Linked DNA regions of Homo sapiens: region 2 is linked to region 1. A link means that fine-mapping ties the variant in region 1 to the expression of a gene that starts in the linked region. Tissue or cell type: aorta. Region 1 holds a variant in brackets; the other region holds the start of a gene. All regions are shown on one strand. Distances are from middle to middle.

Evidence for each region. PIP is the estimated chance that this variant, and not a neighbour inherited with it, causes the effect.
Region 2: CHMP1A starts here. The variant in region 1 is fine-mapped to the expression of CHMP1A in aorta (GTEx, PIP above 0.99).

The regions. Positions count from the first base shown.
Region 1 is chr16:90,098,551-90,106,637 of GRCh38, reverse strand. It overlaps FAM157C (family with sequence similarity 157 member C), which reads right to left and starts at 4,374. Exons shown (of 4, transcript NR_126161.1): 1 at 4,196-4,374; 2 at 1-479. LOC105376786 (a long non-coding RNA gene) reads left to right here and starts at 4,475. Exons shown (of 2, transcript XR_933914.3): 1 at 4,475-4,890; 2 at 5,006-5,459. The variant A/G (reference allele first, on the strand shown) is at 4,565.
Region 2 is chr16:89,654,401-89,662,487 of GRCh38, reverse strand. It overlaps CHMP1A (charged multivesicular body protein 1A), which reads left to right and starts at 4,780. Exons shown (of 7, transcript NM_002768.5): 1 at 4,780-4,906. The coding sequence starts at 4,900. SPATA33 (spermatogenesis associated 33) reads right to left here and starts at 4,652. Exons shown (of 3, transcript NM_001271907.2): 1 at 4,540-4,652; 2 at 4,067-4,240. The coding sequence starts at 4,576. RefSeq lists an enhancer at 4,499-4,668 and silencers at 4,384-4,773, 4,994-5,053.

The sequences.
Region 1 (8,087 bases):
AAGGAGGCTGGGTCGTCCCTGGCCACGGTCCCCAGGTGTTCCTAGAGAGCCAGCGGCGTCTCCCGAGTAGGTCCTGAGGAGGAGGAGGCTGGGCCCTCTCAGGTGTCCCTGTAGGGATGACGGCGCCTCCTGCGTAGGTCCTGAGGAGACGGCTCGGTTCCGCCCCCTGGAGCCGCAGGCCGTCTGTGCCGGAACCCGGGCGCCTCTTGAGGTTCTGTGAGGCGGCATCGCGCCCCCTGACGGCCGTCGCAGGCGGTGCAGGATGCTCAGGTGCTCGCGGTCGAGCTGTGGCCTCGCCCCTCCGGTGGATCTCCGAAGTTCACTGTTCGGACAGTTACACGCCATGACTTTTGAAAAACCAGCTGAAGCCGGGCGCGGTGGCTCACGCCTGTAATCCCAGCACTTTGGGAGGCCGAGGCGGGCGGATCGCGAGGTCAGGAGATCGAGACCATCCTGGCTAACACGGTGAAACCCCGTCTCTACAAAAAAAAAAAAAAAAAAAAATTAGCCGGGAGTGGTGGCGGGCGCCTATAGTTCCAGCTACTCGGGACGCTGAGGCAGGAGAATCGCTTGAACCCGGGAGGGGGAGGTTTCAGGGAGCCTCCTCTAAACAGAAAAGACTGACCCCCAGTCAGTGTTTTATTTTCCCTGATGACCGCAGGCCATGAACTTATGGAACAATAAGGTAATTAGGCTCTTGGATCCAGGGAAGTAGCTCCATGCCACCTGCCCTCATTTGCTGAGCATTTTGGTTTCTCGGATCTGCTACTCAGTTTCCAGTCTCTTCCTCCCTGCCAATGCTGCCAGCGTGCCTCTTCTGCAAGCAGCAACCGCCTTCCACCTTCCATTCTCTCCTCTTTAGCCATCATCTGGCTGGACTTTTCAGAATGGACTGCAAAGGAGAATAAACTGGCTGAGTCTGAGGGTGCACTCACGTGCAAAGTTGCAAGCTTTAATGTACCCATCTTGGCAGATTTTGGCTCCTTAGAGTTCTTTCGCATTTGGGGATCTCATGTGCCCTCTGATGAGGTGGGCTCACTGACTGTCTGTGCTGGTGGCATCTGGCAGCACCTTGTCACGTGCACCTAGGTAAGAACCTGGCTGCACCTGATGCTTAGCCAAATGGGGAGCCCACAGTTCTGTGTATCAGGTGATGTTTAATCTCTGGAGGTTAATGAACGTGAGGGAGCGATACTGTCTGGGACTGTCCACATATTGCGTCTGAGTCACTGAAGGAAAAGAATGTGGGGTCTGTTTGCTGGGATTGGACACCTCCATAATCACATGCTCCATGAAATGCAGGCAGGAGATCTCGCTTTCTACCTCTGGGATGGGAGTGTGCAGTTTCAGAATGAGACTAGCCCACACAACTGACTCTTTATTTGGGAAAGAGAAATGAAATCAGATGCAGCAATTTAATATCCACTAAGATGATATCTTAATCACAAACACTCTTCTGGTTTTTAGAAATGTGAATGTTATTTACACTAGGTTAAAAAAACCTGAATATCCAACAGCATGACACTGACTAAAGAAATACTGGCGCACTCTGGAACCTTGCACACCACTTATTGGCATGGGAACAATGGGAACACGCCTATACAAAGATGTGCATGGAAATTAGAAGAATGCAACACTGTAGAACAGATGTGACTAGGTGCATGATCAAGAGCACACAAGACCAAGCCTGCCTCTGCACACACAAGACCGCGCCTGAGTCTGCACCACGTGACGGGACCACTGTGGAGCAAGCCTGGGAGATTCTGATGTAGGCAGCAGAGGCGTCACTTAGGGACCAGACTTCCGTGGGAAACCACCATCTCCTTCCAACCCAGATGCACTTCGTGGGAAACGCGAGCAGATGAAGGTCATGTAGGAGACGAAAGAACTCGCTCCCCAAGCCTGTAGGCCTTTGTCCTCCACCCATGGACCGAAGCATCTTGTTAGATGAGGGCCGCCCGCAGCCAGGGCTGGCGGAGAACCTGCCAACGAGCAGGTGTCCGTAAAGAACTGCTGACTGTCACTGTCCCTACTTGGGGGCCACTGGGGGATCTGATGCATCTCACTACCCTTTGTAAAGGAATTATTGAAAATGTCAGCCCTCTAACAAGGCATAGGTTGATTAGTTACAGGATTTAACATTTCTATTTTAAAAGGCAGCATTGAAGAATGTCTTTACAAAGGCTGTACAAAACCTGCCATATTCTTTGTCACACAGATTGACTCATGTGCAATGCAGCCATTTGATGAAACACTGGCATTTACCAGATGTAAACTTATTAGCAGACGACAACTAGAAATAGTGTGCTGGATGTGCCCGTTTATTTATATGAATATAACCATCTCTCTAGATGCATCGAAAGATACACAACATGAGATCCACTTTATTTCTACAAGTTTATGATCAGGTGGTCAGGACAGGGAAAGAAGAGGAAAAAACTTTAAATCATGGACCTTTATTCTTAGACACCTTTATCCTACATACACAAGGTACATGCATGGTTGAAATAACGGAAACAAGGTGGATAAAAGTGAAAGTAACTTAAACTGCTTTACCCAGGAATGCCCAATTCAGATGCTGCAGAGAAGAGCATGAGAACCGGGTGTCTTCAGGACAGGTGTGCATCTGGGAGCAGAGTGGGCATTCATCAGCAGGGAGGAGCAAGGCCTGGGTCGGGGGACACTGGGGCTGCTGTCCCAGAGGTTGGCAGTGTAGCCCTGAATCCCCAAGACTTCACTCAGTCTCCCCTCAACCACCTAAACCAGAATAAACTGATGTAGCAGGACTCCTCAAACACTGTGCAGGGTCTCCATGTCCTCGATGGCCCCTGATGAGCCACAGTACCCTCAGGTCCTAGTGAAGGAGCTGGTGCTGCCTCCTGCCTTTCCCCACATGGGGTCCTGCAGCTCATCCCACACAGCCTCAGATTCCCTCTACAGAACCTGCCCACAGATGTCTTCTGAGACCAGCAATACTGGGAGGCCTGTGGCCCAGACCCAGGAGGAACCAGCTGAGAGGCTCCGTGGAGGTATCGCTGATGGTGTAACCAGAATGAAAATGCCCACTTCTGTTCTGCTCCCTGAGAACAACTGTCAAGCCAGCATGAGTTTCCAGTTGGAACTTTTCCTTTTCTCCCCATGTTTGTCACTGTTTTAATGGACATCGCCTGGCTATTAAATCCCCCGATGAACTCACTTTGAAAATTATCTATTGCACTGGGCACCCTTTCAGGAATCACTGAGTGTTAATTTTCTCAGTCTGAGTGATAATTTATGAGTCAAACAAGGACAGATCTGAAGCCAGAGGCTGCTCCTGTTGGGAAATCCCTGAGGATGATGTTCCAGGGAAGCCTCCAGCCTTGGGAGTCCCGTGGAACTGAGCCAGCCCAGGTCATGAAGGGAGCTGGTGCCAGACACTGACTGGGGACCTGCTGGCCTCTGGGCAGACCGCTCTGTCGCTGCACTTGGCCTGCTGGGTATCCCTGTGCAGTCATACCAAGTCCTGTGCTCAGAAGGGCCCCAGAGTAGTTTAAAGTTCTGCTGCCGCCCCTGGAAGCTCATGATTTTGAACAACAACAACAACAAAAAACCCACGTTTTCCACTCGGCCCCACACATTATGTGGCCTGCGCAGCTGTCAGGCTGTGGCCACAGTGCTGGCATCTCTCACACAATGAAGGCTGCTGGAGTCCTGGCTGACTTGTTTTGACTCTTTTGTGAGGCCCACACCTAAGCTAAACACTCACGTGCCCCCACGCTGACTCCCCACACTCTAAAGCATGAATCTGCCCCTTCAGCTGGGAGAGGGTCCTCGTGTCATCTGGGTTTTTGGAGAGAAGGTCAAGGGAGCCTGGGTTCTAGTTCTTCAGTAATCAAGAGCAATGGTCTTACCTGTTCACAGGTCCCTGTGGCTGCTTTACAGAAAGCAGGAAGTGGCCACTTCAGCCACACGGCTGCATTTCCAGCTCAGTCCAGGCAGAGCTGCACCCTGCCTTGCACCTCTGCAGATCCTGAGGGGAGTCCTTAACTGAGCCAGGGCGAGTCCTGGGGGCACTCTGCCCCTGGGCAGGCCCTGAATCTCCTCTGCTCCCACACTCTAGAGTTCAACAGGTCTCAGGGGCTCTGCCTGAGGACTGTCCTTCAACCAGGTATTCGTAATTTCCCCAAGACCCAGGCTTGCTGAGTCACTCAGTTACCTGAATGCCTTTTTCACAAAGGAATGACTGTGCTGCTCCGTCTTCCTTCTTTTTTGTTTGCGAGGCCACAGGGAAATCTGGATCCTCTGGTGAAAAAGCAAATCCAGTTGCTGCTGCTGCTGCTGCTGCTGCTGCTGCTGCTGCTGCTGCTGCTGCCGCCGCCAGTTCTTGTAAATGTCCTCACTTGGTTTCTGGGCAGCAACTTCCTTGACTTGCCTGGGGAGCGGATCTGAGCTGCATTTACCAGGCCATGCCCAGGGGAAGTGATCAGTGTGGGACCGTGAAGCTGGATTTCCCCAGGAGCTCCCTCCAAGCTTCTGGGATGATGATAAGACTCGGGATGAACCAAGGATCTGGAACCATGGGACA[A/G]TGTGAAGTCTAGACCCAGTGGAGGAAGAGAAAGGCTATGGGAAGGGCAGGCTTCACGTTACTGAGCATCCGCTACCTGCCACACACTTTCACGTGGACTTATTCTGTGTGTTTCTCACAGCACCCTTGAGAAATAGAGACTACGATCACATCTTTTACATAAAAGAAAACCACCATCCAGGGAGGCGAAGTCCCTTGCTCACAGACTGTCATGTGGGAAGCTCTCTGGATGCAATGATGTCCTCCAGTTGCAGTACCAGGCAAGCTGTCCCAGAGTTCATGGAGCGGAAAGGCTCGAGAAGCAACTGAGGATGCTCAAATCACAGGTTTATAAAATCCATTCGTAAAACACAGCAAGAAGCTGAGGGAAGGAGATGGGAGGGCCGTATGACCTGATTCCTGTGCTGTCAACATTCATCGGTTCTCTTCTTTCTCTGCTAGTCAACCTCACCCACTCAGGTGTGACCACGAGGACCAGAGCCGAGGTCTGGGCAAGAGTGCTCACAGCTTAAGGGCTTATGACACACACCGGCTCAACGGGACAGACATGGGACAAGTGTGCCTGATCATGGTGGCGTTGCCAAGAAGCAGCTGTCGCACTGCCATGGGTTCTACGTGTTTCTTGGGCAGAGGACGCATGGGACCAGAATGGGCACCAGGAATGGTGGTGAACAAAGGCCCCATGGTTCTGCATGTTTAGGTGTCTCTTGTATAAAGGCACATTGTGAATTGAACATTTAGTGCCCAGGAGCCTCATGCATATTAAGTATCTCTTGGCCCTTGTGTCTCTTCCTTCCCACATGTAACATACCTGTTCTCTGTAACTATCTATTCTGAACGTATCTAAAAACCATGTCTTGCCTGTGTTATACAAACCACATGCATACTCACGTTCTCTGATGTAGCTGAATGTTTCCTAAGGCCAGGGCACATTTCAGGGTCACATAGAGTGGAGAGAGGGACCAAAATAGCCTTGCTCTGTTTGACTCCCAGCCGAGATGTCTGCTGGGCAGCACTGCCTCTGTAGGCTCTAATGGGGGAAGGGAGCTCAGGGGAGCCTCTGGGGCTGGGCAGGCTACCAGAGGGTGTGGACATTTGGGTGGACCCTGACGGAGGACTTGGGTTTCCTTGGGAGGAAGTGTCAGGAAGGGCATCTGGGGCTGAGAGCACTGTGTGGGCAACAGAAGGAAGGAAACTGTGGCTGGCTGGGAAGGGATGGTACGGGGGACAGGGTGAGACTTCTGGCCCTGGGTGCTCAGATGAAGACCTGGGGTTGCCTAGTGGCTGGAAACACACACCAGCTGTGGCAACTTGACCTCTGGGATGTGAGTGTGCAGGCAGCTGCTGAGAACGGCTGTGGATTTGGAGATGTGGCTACAGGGAATGGGCAGTGGATTCATCTGGGAATTCTGCAGGCAGTGGCCCATAGAGGAAACAGCCTGGAAATGAGACTGCAGATACGTGCTAAAGAGGCTGGAGGAACAGTGACCCCAGTACAAGTTTATGGATCTTATCCACAATCTAAAGAAATGGAGGCCAAATGGCTTTTGAAATTCTAAGATACATGCAGAGGAAGAGTAATGCTTCATGGGAGAGCCAGACTCTTACTGGCAGTGACGCTACACGGTAGAGCTCTGTTCCTCCTGCCCATGTCTGTGGTTGGGGCTGAGGTAGTGCACAAACATGACGCTGATGAGGCCCAAGCATTGTTGGAAAAGAAATCAGCAGCTGCCACAAGAATCTTGAATCCGTGGCTGAAGACCTTGACTTTCTCTGGGACCAATGTGGTCAAGAACAAAGTAAAATCATGACAACAAACACTGTTCAGTTTTCCAAATATAAGCTATTTTAAATACTCTACATTTACCCTCAAAGACTGACATAACTTAGAATAACTTTTATAACAGCAAGGATGAGAACTAAAACTTAAATTGTAAATACAATTTTATTTATAAAAACAAAGTTAGCTTCAAATATTTTGTGAACTAGTAGAATTTTAACCTTCTGTCACATTTCCCAGCAAAGTAAATAATTCTTTTTTTCACTTCTAGTCTGTCAGAAGAAAAGTCTTAGCTGAAATGGCCAGAAACTCTGACGCACACTCCGGAGGCTGCTTCCGGGGCACCTCGGCACGGCCGCTTTTCCATCCCGGCCCTCACTTGATGCAGTCCAGCAGGGTTGAAATTGTTTGAAATGCTTGTTCCCAGTGCAGTAAAGAACTAGCACTTGAATGTAAATTTAATTTCCTCAGCAAGGCCATTTTTATTTTTTTTTAATTTCTGCAGAAAGTGTACACTCGCCAGCAGTTTTGCCACAACAGTATACTGAGCAAAGGAGACAGGGTCATTTATAACCTGATGCATCCACCCTACTGCTGTGTCCAGTTTCCAGAGGCTGGAACGGGACCTCACATTCTGTATTTGTCCCGATTGGCTAGCAACTTAGAACTTTTTTAAAGAGGAAAAGGCAGAGGAGAACGAAGGAAGGAGGAAGTAACTTGTGGAATGCTGAAAAAAGTAAAAACACCTTCGAATAAAGAAGAGGAACAGGCAATGACCTAAAGCTTGCTTGGACTAGTATAAGCATGCCAGGGCAAATATTTAGGCTAAATTGTGGGAGCTAAGATCATAAAGTACATTGATTTCTTTATTAGGGCTAGCAGATATTTAACAATGTTAGCACAGGTCTTTGAATAAATTTTGCTTCTAAGAGAAGTTACTATTTATTTCTAATGAGATGGGAAGGAAAGTCTTTGAAGAGGAAACTCTACTTTTTACAGAAGTAGGAACTTAGACTTACAGTTTGCACATTGACAAACTTGTTTTCCTTCCGTACACGAGGGGTTTATGATCCTCTGTTGCAACTGATTTGTCTTATGTAACTTCAAGAGTTACTCGTCAACCTACTTACTATTCTGGACTTTTCGGGAAATGGCAATTTGCCTTCCTATTTAGTGGGAGGGATACTGAGGCTGCACTTTTTCTTACCCCAAGAAGTGCACAGTGTCATTGCAATGTCAACATCAGGGAGATCTCAGCCAGTGTGAAATAATTAGATCGTCCACTCAAAATTCTTAGTTACAACTTTTTAATATTTTCTTCACACTTCTTAAAAGCAGCTTAACAAGAATTGCATTAGTCAGGGTTTTCCAGAGAAACAGAAAAGAGAGGAGGAGATGTCCAGAATTGTCTCGTGTGATTACAGTGGCTAGAATCCAAGGAAGAGTGGCTTGAGTCCAGGGGCAGAATTCCCTCTTCCCCTGGGAGGTATTTCTTCCTTTAAGGCCTTCAACTGATTGGATGAGACCCACCCACATTATGGAGCATAATCTGCTTTACTAAAAGTATACTGGCTTAAATGCTAATTTCATCTGAAAAATACCACAGAATAATGTTGACCAAGTACTGGGAGAGGCCTTTTCCTTCATCTTTTGGTAAATTGCAATCCCTGGGTATATTCACATTTGAAACTCAAATGTGGGCATTGGCTACTGCAGGCCTTTCCCGGCTCAATGGAGTGCAGA
Region 2 (8,087 bases), 440 kb after region 1:
CCGAGATCATGCCATTGCACTCCAGCCTGGGCAACAAGAAGGAAACTCCATTTCAAAAAAAAAAAAAAGTGTTCAAACACACAAGAAAATAGAATAGTGAATGAGCACCTGCACCTATAGAGCACTCAGCTTCAATCAGTATTTTGTTATCTTGTTCTTTCTTCGTTTTTTTCCTGAGTATCTTTTTTTTTTTTGAGATGGAGTCTCACTCCATTGCCCAGGCTGGAGTGCAGTGGGATGATCGTGGCTCACTGCAACCTCTGCTTCCTGGGTTCCAGCTATTCTCTTGCTTCAGCCTCCAAAGTAGTTGGAATTACAGGTGTGCACCACCACACCCAGCTAATTTTTTTGTATTTTTTGTAGAGACAGGGTTTCACCATGTTGGCCATGCTGGTCTCGAACTCCTGACCTCAAGTGATCCACCCGTCTCGGCCTCCCAAAGTGCTGGGATGACAGCATGAGCCACCATGCCTGGCATTCTGAGTATCTTTAAGGAATTTCAGACATATGATTTTACCCATAAATGTTGCAGTGTATTTATTAGATAGGGATTGTGTTTTAGCGTAACTATAATAGCATTCCCACATCTAAGAAAATTAACACGGACTCATCCTCAAATACCCAATCTGACTGTCTCAGGAGTGACGGAGCCCAGGTCTGAGAAAATTAACACTGACTCATCCTCAGATACCCCATCTGACTGTCTCAGGCGTGACTGAGCCCAGGTCTAGGTCGCTCAGATTTCCTTCTAACATCCCCTCCTTTTTTTTCAAGTTCTTTATTTGTGGTAGAATTTCCAACATTGTGGAATAAGGTGACTGTAAATCTGTGATGTTAGTTCTCTATAATGTTTGTATGTTTGTGAATTTTGTAATGCAAAAATTTAAGCATATACAGAAGTAGTAGGGGTAACAGTATAATACATCTATCTGTATTAGTCCGTTTTCATGCTGCTAATAAAGACATACCAGAGACTGAATAATTTACACAGGAAGAAGGTTTAATGGACTTACAGTTCCACATGGCTGGGGACGCCTCACAATCACGGCGGAAGGTAGGGAGGAGCGAGTCACATCTTACATGGATGGCAGCAGGCAGAGAGAGAGCTTATGCAGGAAACTCCCGTTTTTAAAACCATCGGATCTCGTGACACTCATTCACTATCACGAAAACAGCACAGGAAAGACCTGCCCCCATAATTCAATCACCTCCCACCCAGTTCCTCCCACATGTGGGAATTCAAAATGAGATTTGGGTGAGGACACAGCCAAGCCACATCAATATCCTAACAGCTGCCACAGTGATTAACTTATGGCCAAACTTTCTCCCCATCATGGCCCTTCTGTTCTTCTCACTACTGCTTCATAGTAACTTACCCCAAACCTCAGCAGTTTAAAACGATTTTCTTTTCTCTGGATTTTATGGGTTCAGGACACGTTTGGCAGGACAGGTATCACGTGTGGTTGTCCAGGCAGTTGGAGGCATGTGAAGACTCACTGAGACGTACAGGGAAGCTCTTGGGGCTGGACACTGATGCTGGCTCCCCCTGAGGTGCATGCCCCAAGCTGAGAAGACTCAAGGTTCCAGCCAGAGCCTGGAATCACTAAAGGCTTGTTTGCTCACAGGTCTGGCTCCTGGGCTGGAAGGGCTTAGGGACCAGGACTACTAAACTGCAGTGCTTCCCATGTTCAGATTCAGGTCGAAAACCATTTCCATCACCCTCCAAAGTCCTCTTGTGCTCAGCTGTGGCCGGCTCCCATTTCTGCCCAGCAACCACTCATCTGCTTCTCTCTGTAAATGTGCCTTTTCTGGACATTCCATGGAAAGGGAACTGCAACATGAGTGGTCTTTCCTCTGGCTTGTCTCACTCAGTGTCCCACCTTTGGGACTCCTTCACGGTGTGGCAAGGGAGTCAGCAGCCTGCTCCTCACTGTCGCTCAGCCCGTCACTGCATGGAGAGCGTGCACACTTCATTTTATCTGCTGAAACTCTGTTCTCACTCTTGCTCTGCTGTTTTCCCTTCATGTCCACCTTCCTCCCCCACCCTCTGGTGTGACAGACACTGCTGGGGCCCTTCCAACAGGCGGTCCTCCTTCCCCCACTTCCGTTACTGGCAGAGGTCCTGCCCACTCCCATGCTTCACAGCTCCCTCCAGCCCCTGGTGAATTTGCACCATTGAATGAGTCCTGCAGAGGCTGGGCAGGCGAAGCCTTCCTGGGAAAGGTTTCCTTGCTAATATGAAGCAAGGAGCAATGCCTTTGCAGTAGATGCAGTCCTGCCTGCGTGTGGGGGGCTGTACACTCATCGGGGGCTGTGGACACTGAGAGTGGTCAAGAAGAGACACGCAAAGTCTTTGATGTCACTGTTGTGCTAACAAGCCAACCTGGAAGCTCCACCTCTGACCCTTCATTCGTGAGACATTAAATCCCTGTGTTAAAGCTGCGTTTAGTGAGCTTTTCTGTAACTTTCAGCTAAAAGCACCGTGACAGACAGGTAGCATTTTCCAAACTGCCACCCAAGGGTGATGCTATTCCTGCAGGGTTCCATCCTCCGGTGGGGGGTTGCGCCCTCCTGTGAGGGGTTCCACCCTCCAGTGGGAGGTTCCAAAGTTGGGAATTCAAATCCAAGTCTTTCTTCCAAGTCCAAGGCCCAGAGCCTCCTACTTTCAGCCCTTGATCCTACAAGCGTGTCAGTGTGAAGCAGTCCAGGCCCAGCTCCTCTGCCTAGCAGGCCAGTCATCCCCCTGACATTCTTTCTTGTCTGACCCGAGTGGTTCTCTCCTTATTATTTTTTTTTTTTTCTGAGACAGAGTCTCACTCTGTAGCCCAGGCTGGAGTGCAGTGGTGCGATCTCGCTCACCACTACTTCTGCCTCCCGGGTCCCGGTTCAAGGTTCGAGCAATTCTCCTGCCTCAGCCTCCTGAGTAGCTGGGATTACAGGCACATGCCACCACGCCCAGCTAATTTTTGTATTTTTAGTAGAGACAGGGTTTCACCACGTTGGCCAGGCTGGTCTTGAACTCCTGACCTTAAGTGATCCACACGCCTCGGCCTCCCAAAGTGCTGGGATTACAGGCGTGAGCCACTGCGCCCAGCCGAGTGGTTCATTCTTGTGATGAAACTTAAAACACCTCCTCCTGGCACAGGCCCCCAATCTCCTCGGACGGCAGGCTCTGCGGGTTCTCCCTGCCTGACCCTTCTGCAATTCCTACTGCAAGGCCTTGCTGGCTCCCACTGGGCCACAGCAATGGGTCTCTGACCGGGCCACCTCCCCTGCGAACTGGCTTCCCCTGTTGGTAGGCACAGACCTCATCATGCCGCCCTTGTTTTTTATTTTTAAATATTTATTTTTTGTAGAGACAGGGTCTCACTATGTTGCCCAAGCTGGTCTTGAACTCCTGGGCTCAAAAGATCCTCCTGCCTCGGCCAAATAACTGGGAGGACAGGTGTGAACTACCGCCCCAGGCAGCACCTCCGTTGTTTAAAATATTTAACGCTTCCAGCTCCACGTGGTAAAACTGATGGAAAACTTTGTATTCTAGCTTCTTCCTACTTTTGGGGCCTCATCTTCCCCACACACACCCAAAGGTCTGGCCACACTAGGCTGTTATAAAAGACACCTTTGTCGCACCCAGGTTCTACTCCTCGGTCACCCTCCGCAATGTACTTATCCCCACAGCCCTCGGAGAGCTACAGTCCAGCCTGGGACGGCCTCCCAATGCTCTGTTCCAGTGTGCGGAGGCTCAGGGATTCTCAGTGGCACCAAGATACCCAGCCCTCGAGGAGAACCTCAGGTGAGACACACGCACACTGCCCCAGCCCCTCGACCACCTGGTACGCACTTATCACTCGGGAACTGACCTACATTTTCATTAAACTTATGTTTTCAACTAAGATTTCTGGATATTTACCTCCTACATAAAGTTCCCAAAACAAACCAGTTTCATCTTTACGGCGCGTGCCTGCTACTAGTGTCCATCCGGTAGGGTCTTACAGTAGGCTCCTCACCCCAGCCCCAGATCCTCCAAGCCACTGACCTCGCTTCGCTCCCTCCCGCCGTCTCCTACCTTCCAGCGAAGCTGCCGGCGGCGGGTGCTTGGCTGTCCCGGCCCCCGGGTGGAGGCTGTCCACAGGCTTCTCCGACTCCCTGTCTGCCTGCCTGGCTTCCTGGGAATGCTTCTCCATCAACTTCTCCTTAGATTTTGGAACTGAATAGGTGGATCCCTTCTTTTGCTCCTCACCTGAAATATATGGATCATCCGTTAGACCCGGGACTTACCGAATGCAGGGCAGTGGGTCCCATCGTCTTCAGTCGCCTGCGTGGGTCCAGAATAAGCTGGCTTCAAGTCTCGAGTCTCCGCGTTTCCGTAACCGCCTCAGGCGGGAAACGCGCCGTCCGTGGCGGACTCGGCGGCAGGAACGGTTCGCACCGGGCCGAGCCTGGCGCCTGCGCTCACACCGCCCCGCCCAGCCCAGCCCCGCCCTGGGCCCGCGCCCAGGGGCGGAGACGCGGGGAGCCCAGCGCCTGCGCCTCCTTTACCTTTCCTGGGTTTCTCTTTGCTTTTGGAAAGGCCCATGGGTGAGCCCACCGCCCCCTCCGACGCAAGCCCGGGTCCCCACACCTCCGCGGCCGCGGAGCCGGGAGCGACTCACAAAAGGTCCTCGCGCCAGCGGCGTGCGTCACCATGGCGACCGCGCGCCGCGCAGCCGCGCCCCGCCCCTCTGGCGGGACCGGCCACCATCCTCTCGCGAGAGCATCCCGTGCGACCGGAAGTGGGGCGGCGACCCCGGAAGTCCCCGCCGGGTGCAGCTTGGTCGGTTCGATCGCCGCCGGGACCTGACACCGCCCGGAGTTGGCGTCCCTTCTCCCTCTCCGAGTGCTGCTCCTGTCATTGTGGCCATGGACGGTAAGAGGTCGCGGCCGTCCTCCGGGGACTCGCGCGCGGGGCGGGGCCGCTTCTCCCACTGGCGTGGGCTCCGCCCACCTGGGGCCGCGGGCAGGACTCAGGAGAGCTCGGGCCTCGACCGTCGATCCCCCGGGACCCCATCCCCAGGGCCTCGACCACCGACCTGGGACCCCTTTTCCCGGTCGTCGTCCCCCGATCCCCGACCCGGACCCCATCCCCAGGGCCTCGACCACCGACCTGGGACCCCTTTTCCCGAGCCTCGTCCCCCGATACCCGACCCGGAACCCCTTCCCCAGGGCCTAGACCACCAACCCGGGACCCCTTTTCCCGGGCCTCGACCCTCGATCCCCGACCCGGAACCCCTTCCCCAGGGCCTCTACCACCGACCCGGGACCCCTTCTCCCGGGCCTCGACCCCCGACCACCGACCGGGACCCTTCCCAGGCCCCCGACCCCCAACCCGAGATCCTTTACCCCGGGCCTCGACCCTCGACCCGGGACCCCTCCCCCCAGGCCTCGATCCCCGACCCCCGATTCGGGACCCCTTCCCCGGGGCCTCCATCCCCAAATCTCAACCCGGTATGCCTTCCCCGGGGCCTCGACCTCTGACCCCCAACCATGGACCCGGGACCTAGACTCCCGACCCAGGACCCCTTGCCCAGGGCCTGGACCCCCGACCACCGACCCAGGACCCTTTCCCCCGCCCCTGGCACTCCTCAGCGTCAGGCGCCCTTTCCCGCCAGCTCGGTAGGGGGGACTGTGCGATGCCTGTTCGGCCTTTCGGGACTTGGAATGTCGGGTCAGAGGGCACCAGAAAAAGTGACAGTTGCACCCCCTGCCCCAAACAGCATCACTGCAAATCAGAAGGACTCAGACAGAAAGCGCTCCCTGAGTGCCAGGCCCTGGTCACAGCAGCTCTTTGCGTCCATTCTCCATGTGGGGAAGCAGAGGTTTGAGCAGGAGCCAGCACAAGCGTTTCTGTGCTCAATGGGTCGCCCTAATTCTTACCTTCTACATCTGGGGCTAGCCGGCTGTGTGCTCAGGGATACCAAAGAACAGGAAGAATCTGGCAAAATGAAGTCCTATGTTTGCTGAAACATCGTTGGGCTGGTGTGATGGGCAGGCTTTTAAAAATACTTTTTGAAGGGCTGGGCGCGGTGGCTCACGCCTGTAATCCCAGCACTTTGGGAGGCCGAGGCCGGCGGATCGCAAGGTCAGGAGATCGAGACCATCCTGGCTAACACAGTGAAACCCCATCTCTACTAGAAATACAAAAATATTAGCCAGGCGTGGTGGCGGGTGCCTGTAGTCCCAGCTACTCGGGAGGCTGAGGCAGGAGAATGGCGTGAACCCGGGAGGCGGAGCTTGCAGTGAGCCGAGATCGCGCCACTTCACTCCAGCCTGGGCGACAGAGCGAGACTCCGTCTCAAAAAAAATTCTTTTAGTTAGAAGTGTGAAAAGCTATAGTACCACCGTGTCATCATCATGAAGGAAATGTGTAGAGATTTTCTGCCCTGAGAGAAGATGAAAGATAACATCTACCTCCCGCCACAAAAAATATGCTGGCCAGGCCGGGTGTGGTGGCTCAGGCCTGTAACCCCAGCACTCTGGGAGGCCGGGCGCGGTGGCTCACGGCTGTAATTCCAGCACTTTGGGAGGCCGGATGTGGTGGCTCACGCCTGTAACCCCAACACTTTGGGAGGCCGAGGTTGGTTGATCACCTGAGGTCAGGAGTTTGAGACCAGCCTGGCCAACATGGTGAAACCCCGTCTCTTCTAAAAATACAAAAATTAGCTGGGCCTGGTGGCGTGCACGTGTAATTCTAACTACTTGGGAGGCTGAGACAGGAGAATCGCTTAAACCTGGGAGGCAGAGGTTGCAGTGAGCCAAGATGGTGCCGTTGCACTCTAGCCTGGGTGATAGAGTGAGACTCCGTCTCAAAAAAAAAAAAGAAAAATTGTGGCTTTTCACTCCACAGCTCACTCAACTCTTTTGAGGGGACTTCTCTCAAGCCCATGTCAGATTTCCTCAGAGTCAGATTTTGCCTTAGCTGGGTTTTTGTGCTGCCACACACGGCTGGAAGAGAAAGCTGAGGTGAGGAAAGCTGAGGTGAGGGAAAGCTGAGGTGAGGAAAGCTGAGGTGAGGAGAGCTGAGGTGAGGGAAAGCTGAGGTGAGGGAAAGCTGAGGTGAGGGAAAGCTGAGGTGAGGGAAAGCTGAGATGAGGAGGGCGGTTTGGCCAGCATCCCACAGTGAGTTGGGTGGGACGGCCCGCCTGGCCTGCACTGTGCCATCTGGGTCAGGCTGGCTGTTTTCCAGTCACAGATAACCTTGGCCGTGACCACACCTGAACTGATAGATGACAGGTTGAACTTGGCCTTGACCACGCCTGCACTGACAGGCGATAGATTGAACGATGCCCAGAGCTTTCTGGAACCCCGGGAGATCTCATCTTGGAGCCTTGGTGTGCATTTGTGAACACTCAGTAACCTCATTCTTTTACAGGCTCCATTTCCTCGTTGTGGCTAGTGTGGTAAAGCCCTTTCAGGAATCTGGGGTCAGGGTCGCTCTCCAAATTTAGCAGTTGAATGAATTGAGATCAATCCTACTTTTTAAAAAAAATATTTTTTCTTTTTTTTTTTGAGACGGAGTCTTGCACTGTTGCCCAGGCTGGAGTGCAGTGGCGCAATCTCGGCTCACTGCAAGCTCTGCCTCCCGGGTTCACGCCATTCTCCTGCCTCAGCCTCCTGAGTAGCTGGGACTACAGGCGCCCGCCACCACGCCTGGCTAATTTTTTGTATTTTTTGGTAGAGACGGGCTTTTACCGTGTTAGCCAGGATGGTCTCGATCTCCTGACCTCATGTTCCGCCGGCCTCGGCCTCCCAAAGTGCTGGGATTACAGGCGTGAGCCACCGCACCCGGCAAAAAAATATATATTTTTCTAATAGAGATGAGGTCTGACTATATTCCCTAGGCTGGTCTGGAACTCCTGACCTCAAGTGATCTGCCCGCCTCAGCCTCCCAGAGTGCTGTGATTACAGGCGTGAGCGACTGTACCGCTGGAAATCAGCTCTTTGATGTCTAAGAGTTACCACCTTGCTATTTTTATCCATTTACCTTTGAGGAGAAAGAGTCTGTAAAAAGTAAACTGTCAAGTACTGAACTTTTAAATTGGCCCAGGCTG